Linked DNA regions of Homo sapiens: all the other regions are reported to be linked to region 3. The links are microRNA targets in miRTarBase. Many come from high-throughput screens and were not tested one by one. Region 3 holds a microRNA gene; each other region holds the end of a gene's coding sequence. Distances are between the middles of the regions.
What was found. The annotated mature microRNA hsa-miR-3117-5p reads AGACACUAUACGAGUCAUAU and lies in region 3 at 4,296-4,315, shown strand. An mRNA with a match to its seed (bases 2 to 7 or 8) in the 3' UTR can be bound and repressed. Matches are read on the target gene's strand: a 7mer-m8 pairs with bases 2 to 8, a 7mer-A1 pairs with bases 2 to 7 and ends in A, and an 8mer does both.

Region 1 (8,142 bases), not on the chromosome of region 3:
TCTACACAATCCTCCAGAAAATAGAGGAGGGAACATTTCCCAATTCAATTTCATGAAGCCAGGATTATCCTGAAACAAGAAAAAAAGAAAACCATGCCAATGCCTCTCATGAATAGAGACATTAAAACCATGACCAAATTATTAGCAAATACATTTCAGCAAATGCAGAAAGAATTATACATGCCATTCTCAAGTAGAGTTTATTCTAGGGAAAGACTGGTTCAATATTTAAAAATCAAGCAGTGTAATCCATGATATTAACAGGCTAAGGAAGAAGTTACATGATCATACCAATCAATGTGGACAAAGCATTGAAAAAATTCAATACTTATTCGTGATAAAAAACTGCCATCAAAATAGGAATAGAAGAGAACTTCCTCAGTTTGGTAAAGAGCATCTACCAAAACCTTACAGCTAACATTACACTTCGAGGTGAAAGAATACTTCCTCCCTGATTTTGGGAACAAGGCAAGTGTAGTGGCTCTCACCACACTTTTTTTTTTTTTTTTTTTTGAGATGGAGTCTTGCTCTGTTGCCCAGGCTGGAGTGCAGTGGCGCGATCTTGGCTCACTACAACCTCCGCCTCCCAGGTTCAAGCAATTCTCCTGCCTCAGCCTCCCAAGTAGCTGGGACTATAGGTGCCCGCCACCAGGCCTGGCTAACTTTTTGTATTTTTAGTAGAGACAGGGTTGCACCGTGTTAGCTAGGATGGTCTGGCTCTCACCATTCTTACACAACACAGTGCTAAGAAGTTCCAGTCAATGCCATAAGGCACAAAAGGAAATAAAAGGCATACAGATCAACAGGGAAGAAATAAAGCTGCCTATGATTGTAGAGGACATAATTGTCTGTGTAGAAAATCCCGCAAAATCTACAAGAAACCTAGAACTAAGAAGTTTAGCAAGGCCAACGGTTACAAGATAGACATATAAAAATTAATTATATACACTAATGATGAACATATGGATATTATTGTTACACATAAATACCCTTTATCATAGCTCAAAAAATGAAATATTTAGGTGTAAGTCTAACAAAATGTACAGAATGTTTTACAGAATGTTTCAGCATACACATTTGATTCCTGCTATTTTATTCCTCTTTGTCAAACTTGACTTAGATATTCTAGACTGTTGCCTTTCTATATATGGTGTACTGAAAATAATCAGTGTTGAAGTTAAAGATCTCAATAAATGGAGAGACATTCAGTCCGTATTCCTGGGTTACCAGGTTCAACATAGTAAGGATGTCAATTCTCTTTAAATTAATACCTAGGTTTAATATAATTCCTATAAAAATCCCAAGGCATTCTGTAGATATAGTTAAGATTATTCTGAAACTTGTATGGAAAGGCATCCATCAAGAATATCTAAATCAATTTTGACAAAGAGGAATAAAGTAGCAAGAATCAATCTAACTGACTTCAAGGCTTATTATGTAGGGCCATAATCAAGACTGTGAGATATTGGAAAAGGGACAGACACATAGATCAATGGAACAGAATAGAGAACCTATAATAAAAGTAGACTTAAAAATGCCCAAATAATTTTTGACACAGTTGGAAAAGAAAAAACCAACTCGATGTTTTTCTAGGAGGAAAGACAGACTTTTTTTTTAGACAGTCTCTTGCTCTGTTGCCCAGGCTGGAGTGCAGTGGTGCAATCTCAACTCACTGCAACCTCCACCTCCCAGGTTAAAGTAATTCTGCCTTTGCCTCTCGAGTAGCTGGGATTACAGGCACACACCACCATGCCTGGCGAATTTTTTGTATTTTTAGTAGAGACGGGGTTTCACCATGTTGGTCTGGCTGGTCTCGAACTCCTGACCTCAAGTGATCCACCTGCCTCGGCCTCCCAAAGTGCTGAGATTACAGGCTTGAGCCTCCGTGCCTGGCTAAGACAGCCTTTTCAACAAATTGTGCTGGAGCAATTGGATATCCATAGGCCAAAAAAAACAAAACAAAAAAACAAACAAAAAAAAAAAACTGGTCACCTCTGGCTCCTTTCCATGCTATGGATACATCCTTACTCAGTAATCAGGGCTCAGGCTCAGGTTCTGTTAGTGTACTGGTGTATGTTATAGCATTAGGAATGCTGGTGCCCTGTTTTAAAATAATGACCTCTGGCAAAATATCAGAACCACAACTAACAAAACCTTGAGGGGCTGGCACTTTGACACACCTTTTATTACATGAGTAAGTATCCCAATGGCAACAACAAAAACAGGGACTGGATTGTTGTTAGCCCTCTGTGTAGGGGCTTCATGAATAACATTGTACGAGAGAACCTGAGTGAATGCAACTATGCCATTAATAAGACTTGGTCACTGTGGTCTGTGACAGAATGAGGTCCAGAATGGCAGATCACTTTGTGGCCATGGCCACAGCTTAGGAGAACCTAACAAAGGTGTTATGCATCCAAACCATCCAGATCTCTCAGAGTTGACTCCATCTATGGGATAGGGGTCAGGCTGAGTTGGGGCAGTAACCCAGTCTGTCTATCCCTATCCTGAGGCCACTACCTCTGCAGGCCCCATTGCCCTTGTTACTTCACCCAGACCTTTTGGCCTCAGTGGTCTAGTCCAGGAAGGGAGGTCAGGTCCTAAACAAACTTGACCTATCTGATAACATCGCCCACCACAATGGAAGGATCAGATGTCTGTGACCTGTACACAAATGTTTACGGTATTCATACTAGCAAAAAAACTAGAGTCAACCTAGATATAAAGATACACACAGGAGTATTATTTAGCGTTAAAAAGGACATGTTATTTGTGACATGTATTAACATAGAAGGGATAATGCTAAGCGAAATCAAAGAGGCACAGAAAGACAAATACTCTAATGATCTCACTCATTTGTAAAATCTGAAAAAGTCAAACGCATAGAACCAGGGAGTAGAATGTGGTTGCCAAGGGCTGGGGAGCAGGGGAAGTGGGGAGATGTTTATCAAAGAATACAAAGTCATAGTTATGCATGATGAATAAGTTCTGGAGATCTGCTGTACAGCATGGTGACTATAGCTAATACTGTTATATATTTAAAATTTGCCAGAATACATCTTAATGTTCTCACCATACACACAAAAAAGGTAATTATGTGAGATGATATGTTAATTAGCTTGATTGAGGTAATCATTCCATAACATATACAAATATCAAAACATCACACTGTATACTATAAACATTACCATATCCTGTGGTACTACCCTTGAAATGCCTCAGACATTTCAGCCTCAGCCATCCAGTCCAGGAAGGGAAGTCACTTCTTGAATGATGACATGTCTGACAACATTGCCCAGCCAAATGGAAGGATCAGATGTCCCTGGCACTATCAGAGGGACTCTAGCATCCTGGTATTTCTTGGTCCTGTTTCCACCCTTGAGGGATCCCACAGGGAGTGCACCTGAGGGAAACGCTGACTCCAGATTAAGAGTTAGGGGGGCCTTTTGGGGTACTGTGGCAGCCTGAACTGCAAACCACCCACAGGATGTGCACTCTAAAAAGAGAAAATGGCTGGGAACACTGGAATTTGGATTTCACAGGCAGAGGCCGTCATCTGGTCCACCTGTACCTCCTCCAAGCTCAGTGCTTCTCAACATGTGCTGCAATCATGTGGTTCCCTTGCCCTGGAGGGCAGTGCTCAGTGTCCATACTGCCATATTCGGATGGGGTGGTACCACCCCACTTGTAGGCTATCTTGGTGTCCTTCCTTCACTCATTGTGAGCTGGCTTTCCATTGTTCAACAGCTCTATTGGACTGAGGATGACAGGGTGCATGGAAAACCCATTGTATTCCATGAGTGTGCCTGCTGTCATGTTCCTTGGGCAGTAAAGGAGGTTCCTTGTCAGAGCAAAGTTTTACAGGGTATCCAAAAACATAATTTAAGTTTCCCTAAAAGGTGGCTATGGTATTCCCAGCATCCACAGGTGACATGTATTTGTCCTTGCCAGTTAGCAACCTTTTGCCATACTCCTTGTAACCACACAGATCTTTTTCCACTTGGTTGTCATTCACCTGACCAGATAGCAAGGCTGTTCTTTTTGACAACTAGTGAGAAGTGGGGAGAAGTGGGTCAGTCCAAGGTCACCTGGAGAACGGTCTTGCAGGTGGCAGTTCAAATCACAATTTAATTTTATTATGGTAAACTGCAAACTGCTTGTCTTTTTCACAAAGATTCTCTTTGATGAAGTTCTAGCCAGGTTCTTCTGAGCCCTTTCTACGTCTAAATAAACCTTTGCCTGTAAAGATCTGAAAAAAACACTAGCAGTTTCTAACAGCTCAAAGCCACATCCATAGGTTGACTATCCTCCTCCTGAAAGTCAACTCCTGAGAAAACTCAAGGTTGCTGAGTTTACTGTTTCTTCCAACCAACACTTGAAGGTAGAGTCCCAGTCTCTGTGGGAGGGTAAGAGCCTACCTTGGCATTAGAGCCAGTTAACAAATCTAAATGGGTTTCACATCAACCAATTCCCTTTCCTGTTTATATCCCTGACTCTAAGCCCCCACTTATCCTCCTCTATTCCCTCATTCTCCCTTTAAGACACCCAGTCACCTCAATACAAATCAAAATTGAGTTCAGTTCATACTGGACTCTTCTTATTTCAAGAGTATGTTACTGATTTAAATCTATCCTTACTGTTTTAACTAGTATCTGGCTTTATCTTTGATGTGTTCTGTATCTAGAGTTCAGGGGTTAATTACTTTCGCTGACTTCATCTACTAAGTAAGTCTGGGGACCTCTTTCTCCAGGTCCTCGTTTATCCCTTCTGAGACGTCTCCTTCACTTTCTGGAAGCTGTGGTTAGCCCAGATCCCATCTTTTAGTTCTCCAGACCAGAAAGACCCCAGGCTTTCCACTGCAGCCTTAGCTGTCCTACAGCTGCATCATGACTATAGCTGGTACTTAGGTTAAAAACATTAACCTTAGCTTGTGCCTGTCTCTTCCTCCGTATTTTATCTCCCATCCAAAATCTTTCTAGTTTTTCTTCAGTTTCCTGAACTCTCAGGTAGTTGTTTCTAGTATTTTGCTCAGAATCTATATTTATCATCTGTGGGAATGTTGGCCTTTAGATTATGCCACCCTATTGGAAGAGAAAATTTCATGTCTTTGCTTTGCATTTGCTGTGAGCTTACTTGAAATGCCAAAACCGCCACCACCACAATGAATCCTCTCTTCACATGGTTGAGGTTCTTCTTTAAGGTAACATTCACGTTGTACATACTGCTCATACAGGTATTTTTCTTAAATTTATTCTGTACAATAAATACAAATGTTCAAGCTGTCAGTGACGTAGTATATCTTAGGTTCTGGAGACTGACAAGATTTGTCCATGGGCCCTGACACTCCTAACTGTATTATCACCCTGAGCAAGTTTCCTAACTTTTCTGCTCAACTCACTCAATTCCTCGATTACACCATGCTGACAACAACAGTATTTACCTCACTAGGTTACTCTGAGGATTAAATATGACAATACATACAAATGAGAACAGCAGCTAATGTAAAGAAAGAGCTTGTTAAATATTAGTTAACTCATATTACTGCAGATGTGTGAAACAAATGTCCCCAATCCCCTTAATGTCTTCCCTCTAATGAAAAAAAGTTACAACAATTTAATACATGTTTGAGGGTTTTCAAAGATCAAGATTATACAAGACAAAAATCAGGAACGCACACAAGCAAAACATTTTTAGCAGAGAAAAGGAAATGAGTACGTAAGCCAAAATAGTCAAACTCCCAAATTATTTTTAAAACGTTGGCTAAAACAGCAATGAAGTACCACTTAATAACTAACTGTTAAATCAGAAATATTAAAATTAACAGCAAGTACTGACTAATTTGTATACTATGGTATACTTTAATATTGACAGTGTGAATTGGTAACTGTTTTGGCACAGTCTGTAATACATTTGAAAGGAAACAAAAAAACTATATTTGACATTGGACTTTCTGTAACTCAACATTTACAGCATTATTTCCTCTCCCCTCCACAGTGGACAGAACTAATTCCAGATTCAATCCTTTCCAATGTGTCCCATAATATCAATTACTGCATGTTTTCTGACATCTCATATGTATGGAGAATGAAGGGTGGGAAATGTCAAGCCCAGGGCCAGGAAGTACGGCCATATATCAGGGGAAGTATGATAATAACACTAAGGAAATAAGACTAAAAAATCAAGAAGAGATGTGGGGCCAAAATAACACATGGAAGATCAGATTACATCATGTCAGACCTTTCATGATTCAGTTTGGGGTCACTGTTCTAGTGATGACGTACCAAAAACTGTAGACAGTATTCTCATGGTGTTCGCTAGTGTCATCTTTCAAGTTCTAAAGGAATTTCATCCCTTTGAACTGGAAAGCGGAAGACAAATAATCATCCAACTTTTGAGTTATTTTGGTGGAACAGATGGATTGAGTTATTTATATTTATACATATATATATCAGACTCAGGGAAAAATAAATTTGGTTTAGTCTACTGGCACCTACATTCTTGTTTACCAATAGGTTGTTAATGACTGGATTATGAAAAGGCTGACAAAAATCTTGGAAAATATTAACAAACTTCAGATAAATTTGCAGCAGATAGTACCACGCAACACACCTCCTAAGCTTTGATTTAAAAATACTTACACAGCTTAAAAAAACAAAAACATTAAAGTCGTAGAGACCAATTATTAAGCGTATAGGAACATGATATTCATGTATCATTAAAACGTAGAGACCAATTATTAAGCGTATAGGAACATGATATTCATGTATCATTAAAATAAGGATTCTTTCAAGATCTGTTTCCTATCTCAGTCTAAATCAGGGGTCTGGAGTTGTGGCCTTAAAAAACTAGCCTCAAACGGCTCCATGCATGCATAATAGCTTTATATGTGTTCCCTTTGTTGGTCCAGTTACCTGATTTATAATTCTTCCTTACCTGAATGACTTTAGAAAACACATTAATATTGCCTTAGGAATTAAATCAATTAAACACTGATGATCAGCTACATTTATCATGTAATTTAATCTGCTTTTTTGTATATTAGCTTTTACATATAGAATCGGGTATCTCAGGATCCCTAATATATAAAAGACCCGCATAAGAAAAAAACATTTGATGATATGCATAAAATCACAACCACAATAATTGGACCATAATTAGACTAGTTAAGAGATGAGGAATATATGCTCATTTGTAAGCGATAAGTGATTATATAAAGAGAAAACATGGGTTAAGTAACACAGTAACATTAATTTTTGTATATAAACAAATTAGTTATCTCAAGTCCTTAAAAGTTTACATTTAAAAAAACAGGTCAAGATGAAGAAATAACTTTGTAGTTTAAACTTCCACATGTGCTCCTTTGGGTGGTTTTGCCTTGGATTTTGCTTCCTTTGAAATCTTTCCATTTTGACATTGAGTAAATCTGGCTACTGTAGAAACACCATCCACAAACTTGGTTTTGAAAAGAACGTTTGCATTGTTGAACATACCTTCTTTTAGTGACACCACAATGAACTTAAGGAAAAAAGAAAAAAGTATAAAAAAACTTTTTGTGATATACTTGAAGTTTACTCCTTTATACTGGTGATAAGAATGGTTTGGAGATAATTTTATTTCTTTAAATAGTTATATGAGGCACCTAAATGAATGCTAGCTGTCCATATTGTTTTAGAAGTCTCTTAATTTTACTTTGGGTACTTCATTACCCAATTTTACTATTTCCTGGTGGTTGACTGCTTGTTGCTATCTTTTGTAGCTGGCATTCAGTTTTGTTGCTAACTAAAGCTGCTCTAGTGAGATATTTTTCTTGTGACATTTTAATATCAAAGAAGGTTTCAAGTTCCTATAGCACACCACTAGCCCAAACAGAACTTCTGAATAATTAGGCACTGCCCCGCCGCCCCATTCAATGTTATTTGCCAAAACACTGCTATAATAAATACACAATCCATGGTAACTATGAGTGGAGTCCCCAGAGTTGTACAATGCATAATTTATGCAAGCATATTTGGCAGCCCCAGCTCCTACAGCAATAGTGCATTAAAAACAAACTGTTCTTAGCTTCAAGAGGCTTTCTTTGTTCTACTTTTTAGCCATGAGAAATTAAATTTCCCCATCAAGTGTCACATGATTTTCTGATAC
Region 2 (8,142 bases), 24 Mb from region 3:
TGGAGACAAGGCCTGCTCCGGCTCAGAGGCAGGGCTGGTGGGGGTGGCAAGGGTAGCTGCCCAGTGGGCAAGGCGCATGGCTGGCTGGACCACAGCCCTCTGTATGCTTGCAGAAACCATGCCAGCCCCCAGCATTAGCTGGCCCCAGAAGAGGAAGGAGCAGAGCCTGAGGAGCCTCAGAGTGTGGGGCTGACACTGGGCACCTTCTCCCACCTGAGTCCTGGAGCAGGGGAGCCATAGGCACCAGGAGGCTGGGACGGGGCAGCAGACTTCAGAGGCAGCTCTAGAGTGGGCCCCAGCAGTATGTGGCCGAGAACTAGACAGGCTCCTTGGCTTCCTCCAGCAAGCTCTGACACAGGAGAGGAGGAGCACAGATTCTAAAGGCTGGCTAGTGGAATCCCTACCTTTCTTTAGGAGCACCAAAATCTGGGGGCTGCAGAGAAAGGGAGCACAGCCCTAAGTAAGGGTAAAGGAAACCCTCCAAAAGAGGAAAGGTGCACAGCCGGCAGCCCCGCCCCCTAGTGGCCACAGGCACTCACTACAGCCTAATTGCAAAGTAGCTTTGGCTTTGTTCTAAGGCCCTCATTCTCCGCCTGGTCGCTCCGGGAACAGGGCCTGAAACAGCACAATGTGGTGGTGAATGGCGCAGACATTGGAGCTGAATGGCCTAGGTTCAAAACCCCAGCTTTACTGTTGCTATTATTACCTGTGCCACTTACAAGCTGGATGACCTTGGGCAAGGGACTTCATTTCTGTGGCTCTGCAAGATGAAGTTGATAATAAGAGTATCTACTACACACAGTTACTTCAAAGAGTAAGTATGATAATCCACATCAGGTGCTTAGGATAAGTAATATTAAGTAACAGGAACTTTTAATAAAGAGTAGCTGTCCAATTCTGTACTTCTGAGGTCAGCATCGCTTAGGGGTACTGCAGGAGAGCTGGGGGTTGAAGCCCTGACCTAGGGTTGAATTCTGGTTCTGACGCAGTCAGCTACCAAGTCTCTGCTCTGTACATGTTGACTAGTCACATATATTAAGGGAAGAGTCCAAGGAGGTAAGCTCAAAAATCACTCTTGAAAATCCTTTGGGAAGGCAGCACTTTTGTGGATAAACATGTCTCAATAAGCCCAACCCGGCCAGTTTTTCTAGTTCTTGGTTGAAGTCTGTCTTTGAGCATTGGAGGAAGCTGCTGGCTTGAACCCAAGACAATGCTGCACGAAACACATGTCTCTTTATCCACCGGAATTGACTCAGTAATGAGATGCTCACGCAGAAGGTACATGGAAGCAAATACCAGTTATAGACTCAGATTTGAATCTTCCATCTCACACTCAGGGGCACATGTCCATCACAGGTGGATACTCCACCATTACATTATTTAAAATTTCCATTCCTTCTCTCTTTGGCCAAGTATATACAACTGAATTTACATGCTTTGATTGAACGCATTCATGATACAACTCCATTGTGTCTCACCTCTCCAAAGCTGTTTCTTCTTCTGTAAAATGAGGGCAGTAACAGTACTACATCATCAGACTATTGTGCAATCAAATAAGACAGTATGTGTAGGAATTTTAAATCGCTGCCAGACAAATGACTTTCATTCCCTTCCCCCAAATTTTCCCTAACTAACTGTGTGAAACGTGAGCAGACCCTTCCCTCTCTGGGTCTCAATGTTCTCCAACAACAAAATGTGGGGGTTGTGTTAGTTGATTTCTAAGGCCCCTTCCAGCTTGAAGCTTTTAGGATAGTGCTGTAATTCTAGGGCATTTAATGCAGTCAAACCTTCAATGCATTTGATCTTAGCCAAAAGGCCAAGAAGCTATCAAGCCTTCAGTGAATGTTAACTGATGCTTACATGGTTTTTCCAGGACTCCTTTACCCAACTGATAAGGGTCACATCTATAAACAGCAGCCCTTTGCACACTGTAGTATCTTAAAACCTTGAGAATTACACATGCATCTTAATCGCCTTTTCATTTGATCAGCAGAAGTATACTTCAGCTGCATCTGAATCAGCACAAGGTGACTACATTTAGTGGTGCCCTTACTACAGTCCTTCAGAGGCACCGCGAATGACAAATGCTTACCTGTGATGGGAGTGAAGCACAGCTTTCCCTCCAAGGAACACACACGGACACATGGACACACACACGGAGGATAGTCACTATCCTTGGCTTTGGGAAAATTCCTCTTTTTAGATAGCAGTGAGGTAAAAGGAAATGAACTCTGGAGTTAGGTCTGGACTGAATTATTCCAGCTCCTCTATTAGCTGTGAGAATTTGGGCAGGTTAACTTTTCTGGGCCTTGTTTCCCTATCTGTAAAACTGCCAAAGATGTTTCTGGTGGCATTGTGTGGGTTACGTTAGCAGCAGCCTGAGGCTTTGGGTAGATCATGGGATTGATGAAAAGGTCCCCCTTCTAGAGTGGGAGGGACTCCAGGTTAATCTCACTTCCAGCCACATGGCTGGTCTGCCCGTTGCTTAGCCTCTCCGGGCCTGTTTCCACATCAGTGAAGTGGGGACAGCATTTCTCACAGAATTGCTACGCTCAGCTCTTGACCAGCAGCCCTGCACTTCTCTTGCCTCAACCCACAACCCCCATGCTAAGGTAGCTCCCATGCCTTGCCCAAGGTAATGGTATAAATGGCAATACCTCCTCCCATCTGTCTGGGACCCTTTGAAGACTCAACTTGGTAGCCCATACCTGGAGCCTCTCCTAAACCACGGCCCCAATCCTCAGTATGACCTAACTCCGCATCACCAGAATCTTGCCTTACCAGAGCATACCTTCAGAATAGCCTCCCTGGGCTGGCATTTGCTACCTGTCCTGGGCAAGTCTGCACCCTCTAAAGGCAGGAACTGCGGCTTCCTCATCTCTGGATTTCTCATGAGAGGGCTTAACACAGAATATGTGCTCAGCAAATGTAAAGCCCCACTTTCACCTTTTGGAAATAGCTCTGGGAAGGCAGTGCTGGGGACAAGATGGGGCAAGGGCAGGGGGTAGGGAGAGGGGAATTCCCTCAGTAAGTATGAGAGGATTGTGCAAAAAACATGATGCCTGGAATCAAATGACCTGGATTCAAACCTCTGCTCTATCACCTGCCAACTGAAGAATCTAGACAAGTTTCTATACCTCTATCTGAGCTGTTCCCATGTCGGTAAAAGGAGGACCACAATATCTACTTAGCACAGCACCTGGCACATACTGAGTACCAGTATGCTTTATGTCCCATGTGCTGTCCTAAATGTTTAAATGTACTGATTTATGTAAATCCCACTACAACTCTAGGAGGCAGATACTATCCTCATTGTACTGGCGCTGCAAATAAGGAAAATGAGGCCCAGGGAAATCCAGTGACTTCCCCAAGTTCATGGAGCTAATAAGATGCTCACTAAATGGCAGCAATTACTGTCCTCAGGTAGTAATGCAAAGGACACAATCTCAGTGACCCCAAGGACTCTGGGGTCCTGGCTGTGGGGTTTCTGCACCTGGACTAGCTCCATTCTCACTTCTTCAATTACAGCAAACAACGGAGACCAATCAGTGTTGTAAATAGAGTTAACATAATATATTTATTTTAAGTGCCATTCATGCATATCAGTTCTGGCAGCAACAATCCTAATGACACTTGGAATATTTCTTTACAGCACTAAACAGTTACAAATAATGGTTGCCGTTCATCATAGAGGCAAAATATGAAATCGTGCAATAGCAAAACTGTAGAAACATTAAAACACTGACTGTCCAACAGCAGTACAGAGAGCAGGTTGTATCTGCACAAAAAGCCAATGCATTTTCATCACATATATACAATATAGATATGTACACATCACCCTCTGAATGAACAATATCAAAATACTCTATTCCATTTGAAATTATCCCCGGATTGATTCCCTCCCACTTCAAAGGACATCTGAGCGACACGTATTTACAAGAACACACATGAATACATTTACATTTCAAAAACTGCCACAAATGCCAGTCGGATTATTCTCCTGAACAGAGTGTCCCCATTTGTTTACATGCATTTACTATTCTTTCCCCCTAAAGTCTTCAGTCAATTTAAGCCCAAGACAGAACTTGTTCTGCATTAGCAACTACCATACAAAATGGCCACTAGAGGGACTCTCTGCACCTCACCAGGTAACCCTGTCTGGCCAGGGCCCACAGAAAAGGCCTGTCCTGGGCTCCTGGACCACCTGGATCACAGGAGAGTGGGATGGGTCTGGGTGAAGGCTTTGCCTCCATGGCCATTCTTGCTAAGTTTAAATTCTCATAAAAATATTCATCACTGCAAATCAGTAAATGATTGCCAAATGGGAAATTCGCTTCACACAATTTATAAAATCATCATCAGTGGTTCTACTCAAATCACTCAGTATGAGACTGCATTCCAATATCCAAATTGTTTAAAGTGCACATTGCTACCCAAGCAATTAAAACAGTTTCAAAACAGCTATTTTGGTGTCTAGAAAACAGTGACTTAAGCAAACCATTGAAAATCACCCCTCTTTTTTCAAGCATTTACTCTGCAGGCTGCCATCTCATCTTGCCTCTGATCCTTCTAAGAGGCGCAAGTTGGCTGCCTTTCCAGAATCCTCTGATTTTCGTTGATCCAAGGGGCTGGAACTGAGCTTCCTTTTTCATGCCAAGTAGGGTCCAAACAACAGAGAAACATAAAGCTCTTCCTTTCTCCCCAACCTCACCAGCCCTTACCATGGCTGGCTTCCCAGTGATTCATTCAAGGCAACACTCCATTAAAACACACACACACACACGCGCGCGCACACTCTCACACACAGCACACACACACAGAAACAAAAGATGTTTGTTTAGTTCAAGTAGAGATTACTCAACCATAGAATCACTAAGGCTAATTAAAGTGATTTAGCATGGCTGATAAGACCAGAGATGCTAAAAAGCAACTAGTGAGCAGTTATTACTCTTTGACTTGATGGAATATATTTCCCCATTAGAACTGACACTTTTTGGGGGGTCTAAAGAATCAATTCAAAATCTATTCATTAAAAAAAAACCCTCATTTCTTCTAGTTTTATCATAAAACTAAGATAATCAGTCCATGCAAACTGTGATATGATATGAAACAAAACAAACCACCACCACTAAAAAACCCGTAAGAGGGGCTGCATTTCAAAGAAAGGGACCAAATGTCATGCATACACAGACATACAAGACAACAGAAACAGCAGGCCACATAATATCTACATTAAACACTGAAGCAAATAAAACTGTAAGTGGCTCTATCCTCCTTTCAAGACAACCTAGATGAGTGGGGAAACCTGCTTTAGAAACCCTGCCCTGCTGTTGTTGCCCAAATGAAATCTGATTCAAATTCCAGAAAAATCCGATTTAACTAATAAGTCTGAATCAGCAAGAATGCCAAGACAGAGAAATCTATTCACATGGTAAAAGGAGTGATGATAGAGAATGACACAATGTCTCTCTGAGTGTCTTATCTGTAAATTCTTATCAAGAAAAGTAACGCTGGGCCAGGCGCAGTGGCTCATGTCTGTAATCCCAGCACTCTAGGAGGCTGAGGCAGGCAGACTGCCTGAGCTCAAGAGTTTGCAACCAGCCCAGGCAACATGGTGAAACCCCATCTCTACTAAAATACAAAAAATCAGCCAGGCATGGCGGTGTGCACCTGCACTCCCAGCTACTCGGGAGGCTGAGGCAGGAGAATTGCTTGAACCCGGGAGGCGGAGGTTGCAGTGAGCCGAGATCGTGCCACTGCACTCCAGCCTGGGCAACAGGGCAAGACTCCATCTCAAAAAAAGAAAAAAATAATAATAGTTCTGTGCTTTCAGACACATTTCTCCTTAATGAACCCGACAGGAGCTAAGCATTCACAGAAGGTAGCAATAAATATTAAAATGACACTTTTGAATAATAAATACATAGGTGAATGTGGAAGCACTGATGTGTTTAAAGAGCCAAGCAATGCCCAATTTCTTACCAATCAACAAATTTTAGAGCTATTATAATGCAGATTTAGAAAAGCAGACATAAATACTCTATGATCCCCCAAGCATCAAAACCAATTTGGTCAGTTCTTCATGCTGCTCAGGAGCAACATGCCCCTTCGGATTGTTGGAGTGTGTCAAATTCTGGTTTCCTTGACTTATTAGATAGAATTCATTACCCACATTTCTAAAAAAGATTAAATAAGGGGAACTGGGTTTTGGAAAAAATCTATTTCCTTTCAGTTTCCTACATCAGTTAAAAGCATCCTGCAGAAAATAGCCTAACAAGGAATAAAAACTGACAATAACTTTCAAGACATAATAATCCAATTAGAAAAAACTGAAGCCTTTCAGTAATTTTTGTACATATATTTACACATATGTATCTTTATATAAACTGCTTGCAGCAAAATAGGCTCCGTCTGAAAAATCAGTCTGGCACTTGTGGTTAACATCAAACTGACACAAATATGCAAAAAGCCGTCCAAATCACACAACAGTTAGGAGCTACATAGGGCAGCTGGCAGGGAGACAAACATGTAGTACTTGCTTGGGTCAGATAAAAGCAGTAAGTTATCCAGCTAAAATCCTTCTGATTGTCTTCAAAAGTAATTTTGATAACATTGGTAAAGTGATTAGCAAGTTTGTTTTCTCAACTGGATTCTCTTAAACCTTTCCCTTCACTGCACAGAAAGGTAACGTTAGGGTCTGGTGTCTTGCAGAAACAAGCCCTACACAATTGAATCCCAATCAAAGTCATCCTGGATGTCATCTGGAGGCAGGGAACGCCGCATCTGGAAGGCTTGGGAAGGCATCATGTGCTGCTGGTTCATGGCTCTGTGATGGCCTGGAAGGAAAGAGGCAATAATAGCAGCGACTTGGGTAGAGAAGAAAGTAAGAAATAAACTAACCCCTACTGTGTACTTCCTATATGCCAGGCACACATTATCTCACTAATTCAACCATAAGCCTTCAAAAAGTGGCTCTTATGATCCTTATTTTATAGGTAAGGGGATACGGTTTAAGAGGATGAGTAAATTACCCAAAGTCACACAACCAGTAGGGGACAAAGATAGGATCTGAGGTCAGTTCACTTGATCCACACTCCTTCCATTATACCAGGCTGCAGTAAGGAAGACACGAGAAAAGTGCCAATGTAGCCACTGCTCTTACAGTCTGTTTTGCTCCAATACGTTGTTTCAGTAACATGAATTGGCTCCCATGAGAATGGTAAACAGGATAATGATGGCAGTGCACCAATGACGTCATACTGAATTTTCCCCAGCAAGCTAATTTCTGTGCCACCAAGTAATGTCAAGTGAACACAGAGGACATCAACAAGGGAACACAGGAAACCAGAAGGAACCACAGCTGAGTACAGAATGCCCACCTTCCCATGCTCTTCTTGTACCAGTTTGGCCATGTGCTGTTTATGCTCCCCAATTTTGATTCATTGGGTCTGTGTCTCCACCGTATCTTGACAGACCCCCCCCTTCTAAACCAGCTGCTTTTTAAAAGTAGAGGTTGATATTTACTTGTAGAATTCTTTCTTTTATTACAAATTATACATATCCTTTTAACTGTTGTGGAAGTTTTACTGGATTTTTTTTTAGTACTCTGATTACAAAATTTCAAGTAGTCTGCTACTCATTTTTCTCATATGCCCTGAAATATTTTCTTGTACAATTATTTAATGCTAAGGTTTTCAGTATATCACAATATAGGTAAAATGCCTCCATTTAAAAAAAACTTATAAGTTCCTTAATGTGGGTCAGGCACTAATTTACATGATTCTCATTCAATCCTAACAACTCGAGGACACAGGTAGTTTTATTAGCCCCTTTTACAAACAGGGAAGCTGAGGTAGGAGGGTTAGGTAGCTTGCCTAATATCACACAGCCATTAAGTGGCAAAGCATGAAGATTCAAACACAAGCAATCTGGCTCCAGAGCCTTACCACCTTATGGTGCCACTTACAAATTAGTAGTAAGCACTCACAACAGGTTAACATTCCTTCCCCCTTCAGCAAAGGACATATCACTTGATCCCAACTCCTTCCTCACTGCTGTCTGCCACACAGTTCTTCAAGGTTTTAAATCCACCCCCAACCCCATTACCTTTATGTCTTTTCCTCAAATAGCCTAAGTAAAGGA
Region 3 (8,142 bases):
CTGAATATGGCATTCATTGTGAGCTCGAAGCTAAAACAGAAGCAAAGAGAAGCCAATTAGGAGACTTGAAAACCAAGGAAAATAGTAGGGATAGACTGATGATTATGTAACTATGATACTTTGTCCTTATAAGGGAATAAGACAATTAGAGGTGAGAAAGAAGTTTTTAATAAACAAAATGAAAAATAAAAGGGGAGAAGGTGTTTCTTAATATTATGGGTGGGTAGTTTTAAATGTCAATACATTTTCCTATAAACTCCTCATGTGGAGAGTAACGGAAAATAGTTTTATATGGGAGGACTTTTTTAAAAATTGACATTTTAAAGACCTAAGTGTCTTAAATGGATGACTATTAAAATACAAAATTAGACAGAACAGAGACATTTTGAAGATTGTATTTGAGTAGTATCCTAAGAGGCAGATAATGAATGACTCAGATAGTCTGAGTGGTTTGGGCTGACTCACATGTTTTGGAAAAATGTATCATCAACTCACTGAATCTGTCATTGTTTTTCCCTTTGTTCCACCTGGTAGTACCAAACAAATTTGAAATATCAGTGACTTTCTCAGCTCCAATTTCTCAAGAAGACTTTCCAAACCACCAATAATAAGTCTAAGGTTTGAATATATAAACATTTAGTATATTTGAATAATACTCACTAACAGAAGCACAAGGCATGTCTGTAACTATGGAACATGTGAGGGATGGGAAACACAAACAGCCTTGACAAGAGAAGTACAGAAGAACCAAGACTGGGCTTGGCTTGTCAGGATGGAAGAAAAGGGCTTTCTTAGCCAGTGCTGCTTGAATGGTGCTTCCTGGAAGATATTTGAAATCACAAATATTATCTGGACTTATAAATGAGGGAGCCTTGGCCTTTGTTCAAGAAAGGATCACAGCCTACTAGGGAAACTGACACAGGGACTAATAGGTGATACCATTTGATATATCATAATACATATAAGAGCAACATTTTGTGGGGAGCATAGAGTAGTCAGTGTCTTACGCCTCTAGGATTAAGAAGCCCTGCAGAAGGAGAGACATTTGGTCTGGGCCTTAAAGGATGAATTGAAATTCTAAACGTCCACAAAATAGAAAAAGCATTTCAACTGTAAGTAAGGACCGAACAAGAAAGAAAGAGACACAGGAGTGCAAATTTTGGGGTGTGTTCAGAGAATGGTTAATAATTCAATGCAGCCACAGACTGGAGGAAGCAGTAAAAGATAAGATGGGAATACGAGACACAAAGATGTGTCAGATCTGTGCAGTTCTCTTGGCATGGGCCACATGATCCATGTCTTGGCATTATCCCAGTCTAAAGAATATGTCTAACCTGAAAATGGCTATTCTTCTAAATCTGTGATTTGGCTTCCTGGCAGAACCCCAATATGGGTGATGAACAACAGTAGTCTAAGAAAATCTTGCAATCTTTTCTATACCCATGTATCCATATATCCTTATGTTGCTTATAGTGCTAAGAACTTATGGTATGAAGTCCTTGATAAGTAACTATTGAAAAAATGTAATAATGAATCATATGGACATGCAGACACACATACCTTTACATACAACTTCAGAAACTTCATTGCTTTCTAAACATTTAAGTCTAACTGGTGTGTTACAACCTTCAAAATATGTTCACTTGAATGTTGCTGAGAGAGTTTTTGACCCTTTGCTGTTTTCCCACAGGATTGAAAAAACGTACAAGGAAGGCCTTTGGAATACGGAAGAAAGAAAAGGACACTGATTCTACGTATGTACTTTAGGAGTTTGCCTCCTCGAAGAAGCTATTTGCATAAGAGATGCTCTTATCACAGTCAATATAAGATGGCCACAGTTTTCTCGGATATTGTGTACTATTTGCTTTCCTCATTTCTGAGTAAATTGTAATTATTCAATATAAACAGTTCTTAGATTTATGCTAAAAAGGTAAAAATTTTTCATCATGTGTTCAGTTTTTATCACATTTTTCTTTCTTTCTTTTTTTTTTTTTTTTTTTTTTGATCATTACACTTCCCAGCAGTCTCAGGAGGCAGAAAATGTGACTGTTACTTTTATGAAGGATAAAAATAATTCATTTCCACATATAGGGTTGACCTTACAATCTGAACTAAAGAAACAACAAAACACCTGTTTGGATAGATTAGACCTAGCCAGAAACAGAAATGTAGACTAGATAACATCTCCAAGCTCTTACTTGAGATGCCAAGATTTTGTACAAGCCAAATTGTAAATCAACCAACAGAATTCAGGAATTATTGGATATTTAGCAGTGAATAAGAAACAAATGCCAGAAACAACTGTGGGGATGCTTTTACATATTTAAGTGTCATATCCAAGAGAATTAATTGCCCACAGACACTGATAGACTCTGAAAATGTGCAATGACATAACAGTTTCATTCCACAAACTTCCTTCCACTTATTTGACCATCTTGAATTCTCCTGCAGAAGTATTTGGCTCTGACACAAAACCTCAGTTGCCTTTTGCAGCCAAGCAGGTAACTTATATATGTGAAGTCCACTGGCCGGGAACTTGAGACTCCAGCCCAAGACCAGTGTAGGGAGAGCACAACTATTCAGCTGCAGGTGGTTGTGACCAGGTAGAAATGCAGAACTGATGTAGTTTGCTGTACGTCAGAATCAAGCCCATTATACCCCTCATTTGGCTAGAATCTCTGAAAGAAAGTTAGAAAATGGGAAAAGCAACAGTTGTATGGGCACAGGTGAAAATGAAGAAAGCCACATTTATTCTCACCTTTAGCTTTTCATTCTGTATATTTTTATCATGCGTAAATTTTGTCACAAGATCCTGAGTATTTCCCTGGGCCCTTGTCCTTTAAGAATTTATGATTCATGAGATAAAATATCTACTACATAAATTATTGTTTGTACAACTAATGAGGTAACATATTTGAAATGACTAATATGGTACCTAATACTTAGTAAATGCTCAGCAAATGGCAGTTGCTGGTACTCTTATTATTACTGACACAAATTAGTATGTGTAAGTTCCTTACAAGCAACTAAGATGGGATTTCATGGGAATTTGAGGGTGAAAAATCTCATATTTGGATTGATGATCAGTGATGCTTCGGGGTGGGGGAGGAGACTTGAGTTTGGCCTTCAAGAAGATGAGGATGTGTATTTCATGCAAAGGGAACAACAAAAGCAAAAGTGGAAAGGTAGTAAAGTCCACTAGGCATTTACTGACAAGACAAATGGGGCAGTTTGTCTACTTGGGGTTACAGGTAAATGTGATAATGGAAGGCAAGGCTGGAAAGGAGACCAGGACCAGATAGGAAGGGCCTTAAGTACCAGGCTGAAGTGTGTGGGCTACTTCCATAGGCAGTGGGCCACCTTGAAACCATGAAAGTTTTTAAGCCAAAGAGTGCAAAGGATTGGGCGAACAAAGTTATTTTTTGTCTAGATGCCAAATGTTAAGTTCTTATATTTTCTTTTTGCATTTTCTTTTGTAACTATTTATTTCAAGAATATTACATTTACTGTTGTCCTGCAAATTTTTCTAAATAATTAAGTTAGCAATATTTTTCTGAGGATTATATAATTTACATTGTTTCTTAAGAAGTTTGCCATTTTCTTTCTTATACTTTAAGTTCTAGGGTACAATGTGCACAACGTGCAGGTTTGTTACATATGTATACATGTGCCATGTTGGTGTGCTGCATCCATTAACTCGTCATTAACATTAGGTATATCTCCTAATGCTATCCCTCCCCCCTCCCCCACCCCACAACAGGCCCCGGTGTGTGATGTTCCCCTTCCTGTGTTCAAGTGTTCTCATTGTTCAATTCCCACCTATGAGTGAGAACATGTGGTGTTTGATTTTTTGTCCTCGCGATAGTTTGCTGAGAATGATGGTTTCCAGCTTCATCCACGTCCCTACAAAGGACATGAACTCATTATTTTTTATGGCTGCATAGTATTCCATGGTGTATATGTGCCACATTTTCTTAATCCAGTCTATCATTGTTAGACATTTGGGTTGATTCCAAGTCTTTGCTATTGTGAATAGTGCCACAATAAACATACGTGTGCATGTGTCTTTATAGCAGCATGATTTATATTCCCTTGCCATTTTCTAATCATTAACCACCCAGAATATGTGATGATGCCTTCACTAGATCAGAAGACCTGGGCTGTAGTCCCAGCATTGCCAAAACTCCATGGCTTTGGGAATTACCCTTTACTTTGCTGGGCCTCAGTTTCCACACCTGTAAACAACAACAACAAAGAAATTTACACTAGATGGAATCGAATTTCCCTAAAGGGCCAGACACTATACGAGTCATATAAGGGAAGGCATTATAGGACTCATATAGTGCCAGGTGTTTTGTGGGACACTATTCGATGGATCTCAGGAGAACATCGTTAATGGAAACCAAATCCATTTCTGAATGAAGACAATGTCTGTAATTGACTGCACCAGAGATTTCTGGCATGTGAGGAAAGTTGGAATGGAAAAAAGCTTTCTCGAGAGAGAAAAGGTTGAACAACCTCTACAGGGCAGGCTGAACTAATTTACATGTAGCCAAAGCACTACTCTTCCATCATCATTTCTAAAGTTATTAAAATAACTGAGTTATTCCTCACAGCTACGGGTAGAGGCCCAATATCTCTCTGAGGTACTCTAACGAGACATTTGTTTAAAGAATCCCAAGTATCCTTCCTTAACTTATCATTTGAGAGTCCCAAATTACTTACGTGATAGCAAAATAGCTGAAGCTGGTTCCACCATCAGTGATGGTCAAAGGACAAGCTGTTTAGTATGTTTAGTATAAGCCTTTGCTTTTCATGAACTCCCTAATGCTTTCGTGAACTCTGTAATTGGATCATATATCATTCTCAGAAAAGAAATCATAAATGCAAAGGGGTTGGGAAAGCACTCTAGCAATTTGCTGTCCCTTCAGCTTTAGTAAATGCTTGTGTTTGTCTGTGATCATTGAAGCCTTGTTGATGCAAACTGTTTTCAGGGCTGCTACAACTCACTGTGGGTTGCTCAGCAACCTGCTAGGGTAGACACACCAGCACCAACTTCAGCTGATTGAACCTCCTAAGATATACAGTGGGGTTAGGACCAGAATTTCCTGATTTGGTCATCATTACAGCAGCTGATAGAGGAAGGGAGAGAGGTTGTGCTAAGTGGAAGGCCCTGTGCAGGACATATGTTGCGCTGATATCTTTTTTAGTCTTCCTAGTAATTAAATAAGGTTAGCAGTAATACATCAATTTTAAAGAGAAATATCAGTGCCAAAGGGGGATAAGTAACTTTCTGAAGGCTACCCACAAACTAAGACTTGGAGGCCATATTCTAGTCTAAAATCCAGTGTCTGTGCTTTCATCACCCAAAAGAAAAGATATCAATGGGTAGAATTAAAATCCAGACAGATAGGAGGGTAAAAAAAAAAGACAGTAGTTACAAAAGGTAACTGAAACTTTAAAATATAGATGCCAAAAGTCCATGGTAGATGATTCTTTTTAAAATAGAAGTCAGCAAATACAATAAGTCTGCCATGAAAAAGAAAAAAATTATTTTAAAATACAATATAAAACCTCATTAGAGGGGGTTAGAAAGTGAAATTAGAACACATGCCCAAGTGTCTGAGGCTGCTAAAATCTCTTCACTCCCTAACCTGGGTCATAGTGTATAAAAATTATTATTCTAGAAAACATTTAATGAGCATTTACTATGTTCTAGAGACTGTCTCAGGTTCTTCACTTATGTTAGTCCACTGAATCCTCTAATAGCCCTATGGGATATATGCTGTTATGATGGCTATTTTATAGATGAAGAAACTGAGAAACAAAGGGGTGAAGTAACTTGCCCAAGCTTCTGCAGCTAGGAAATCGACATTGGTTGATCCCATGCAGTCTGGCACTGGAGCCGGTGCCCTTAGCCACCATGCTGACTGACTCCACAGGACACATGAGCCACATTTCCATCAGTCGAGAAGACAAAGGATCAGAATAGGACTCCAGTGCTGCTATGTACAATCACAGTTTCTCTGATTAAAAATTGTGGAAGACCATCCCAACGGCTGCAATAAGCATGAGGTCAAATGCCTCCCATTTAAGATCCCCTACTGATATGACCTTGTACCTGGATTCACAGTGAGCAACACCACAGCCAGGCCAATCTCCGAGCTTTTGCCGCATCTATTTCTTGCTGTTCCCAAAGGCATCTCCACATGGATCAGTGCCTCTAAACACATCCTACCCAAAAGTTGATGCAATCACTTCTCTCCCAGCTCCATTAGCAGAGGTTGAAGTCCTAGTAAGAATTACTCATATGTGGAGATATTAAGTCCTAGTAAGTTGAAGTCCTAGTAAGAAATACTCAGTATATTGGCCAGGCACCGTGGCTCACACCTGTAATTCCAGCACTTTGGGAAGCTGAGGTAGGTGGATTACCTGATGTCAAGAGTTTGAGACCAGCCTGGCCAACATGGTGAAACTGCTTCTCTACTAAAAATACAAAATTAGCTGGGCGTGGTGATGCATGCCTATAATCTCAGCTACTTGGGAGGCTGAGCCAGGAGAATCACTTGAGCCTGGGAGGCAGAGATTGCAGTGAGCTGAGATTTTGCCATTGCACACCAGCCTGGGTGACAAGAGCAAAACTCCGGAAAGAAAGAAAGAAAGAAAGAAAGAAAGAAAGAAAGAAAGAAAGAAAGAAAGAAAGAAAGAAAGAAAGAAAGAAAGAAAGAAAGAAAGAAAGAAAGAAAGAAGGGAGGGAGGGAGGGAGGAAGGAAGGAAGGAAAGAAAGAGAGAAAGAAAGAGAAAGAAAGAAAGAGAGGAAAGAGAGGAAGAAGGAAGGAAGGGAAAGGAAAGGAAGGAAGGGAAAGGAAAGGAAGGAAGGAAGAAAGGAAGAAAGAAAGAAAGAAAGAAAGAAAGAAAGAAAGAAAGAAAGAAAGAAAGAAAGAAAAAAAGAAAGACTGACTCAGTATATAGATACAAAAAGAGAATTGGCTTTGATGAGTATGGATTGGTACCTATCCTCAGTGCTCTCCTGCTAGCCTGGGCTTACTATGACCATGATAACCCACTGGATTTACTCACCCATTTCATTCTCTCTGAGATTAATATGTTTTCATTATTTTTATCCTTTGGTCCTAACCAATCACCTGGCTCATTACAAGCACTTTTGTTGGCCAAGATTCTTCCTATCATTCTATTTTAAATAAAATTTTTTCAAACTGGTTAATTTCCACATCCAGGTAATGTCCAAAAGTCTCAAGATTTCTGTCAATTCCCATGGTCTTTCAATATCAGAATCTTCTCTGTTTCTTGTCCCTGTATCACTGATTCACCTCTGCATCTGTGTGGACACAGAACTCACTAGTTATGAAAAATATGCACTCTGTCAAGTGTATTATAATCCAAGTAGAATATTCTGCTAATTTTGAAGGGATGTTGGTGGGGAAAGGGAATCACACCTTGGAGTCCAGATGGCATCCTACCAACTCTCTGCATTGCTCTCTCTCTCTCTTTCTCTCTCTCTCTTTCTCTCTCTCTCTCTCTCTCTCTCTCTCTCTCTCTCTCTCTCTCTCTTCTCACGGGCTCCCTGCCATGAAGCAATAATTTTCTTACCTGATTGCACCTTCCGAAGAATGGTTCCAACCCCACACCAAACTCCTCAAGACATCAAAGTTCACCTCAAGCACTTATTAAGGTTTTCTTCCAAATAATGAGGCTCCCTTTCGAAGCATAATACGTATCGCTGTATGTTTTAGCCTCTTAAAAACTGAATTAAAATGGGAGGTTATAAAATTACTGTGGCTACCTTTTAGTTTCTCCCTCTGCTCTTGTAATCCAGTTTTCCAAAATACCTCTAATACCTCTCCTACACTGCCCTAAAGTCCAGTGTGGCTGTAAGTGGGCAGTTTTGTGTTCCTAGTGAAGAGACATCTTGGAAGAGAAAAGAAATTATAATCAACTCACAGTTTTGAATACCATGTGTCAGGAACTATTGTAAGTTCTCTCTATATATTATCTTATTTAAACTGGCTTAGAGAGGTTAAGTGTTCAAGGTCATAGAACTATTTGGACACCCAGCTTCATCTTACTCGAAAGCCCTTGCTCTTGACCACTGCAGCATAGTGCCACCATAGAATAGCTGCC

Region 1: the mRNA of SMC2 is a reported target of hsa-miR-3117-5p. Seed matches in the 3' UTR shown: 7mer-A1 at 5,339-5,345.
Region 2: miRTarBase lists FOXJ3 as a target of hsa-miR-3117-5p. Seed matches in the 3' UTR shown: 7mer-A1 at 5,901-5,907, 7mer-A1 at 4,985-4,991 and 7mer-A1 at 3,628-3,634.

The regions. Positions count from the first base shown.
Region 1 is chr9:104,138,512-104,146,653 of GRCh38, reverse strand. SMC2 (structural maintenance of chromosomes 2) reads right to left here. Exons shown (of 25, transcript NM_006444.3): 25 at 5,235-7,515. The coding sequence ends at 7,339. Among named protein-coding and RNA genes, the nearest start is that of SMC2, 48 kb to the right of the region's middle.
Region 2 is chr1:42,172,990-42,181,131 of GRCh38, forward strand. It overlaps FOXJ3 (forkhead box J3), which reads right to left. Exons shown (of 13, transcript NM_014947.5): 13 at 3,559-6,836. The coding sequence ends at 6,721. Among named protein-coding and RNA genes, the nearest start is that of GUCA2A, 12 kb to the left of the region's middle. RefSeq lists a silencer at 74-291 and an enhancer at 118-745.
Region 3 is chr1:66,624,157-66,632,298 of GRCh38, forward strand. It overlaps MIR3117 (microRNA 3117), which reads left to right and starts at 4,284; the gene lies at 4,284-4,361. SGIP1 (SH3GL interacting endocytic adaptor 1) reads left to right here. Exons shown (of 25, transcript NM_032291.4): 2 at 1,691-1,754.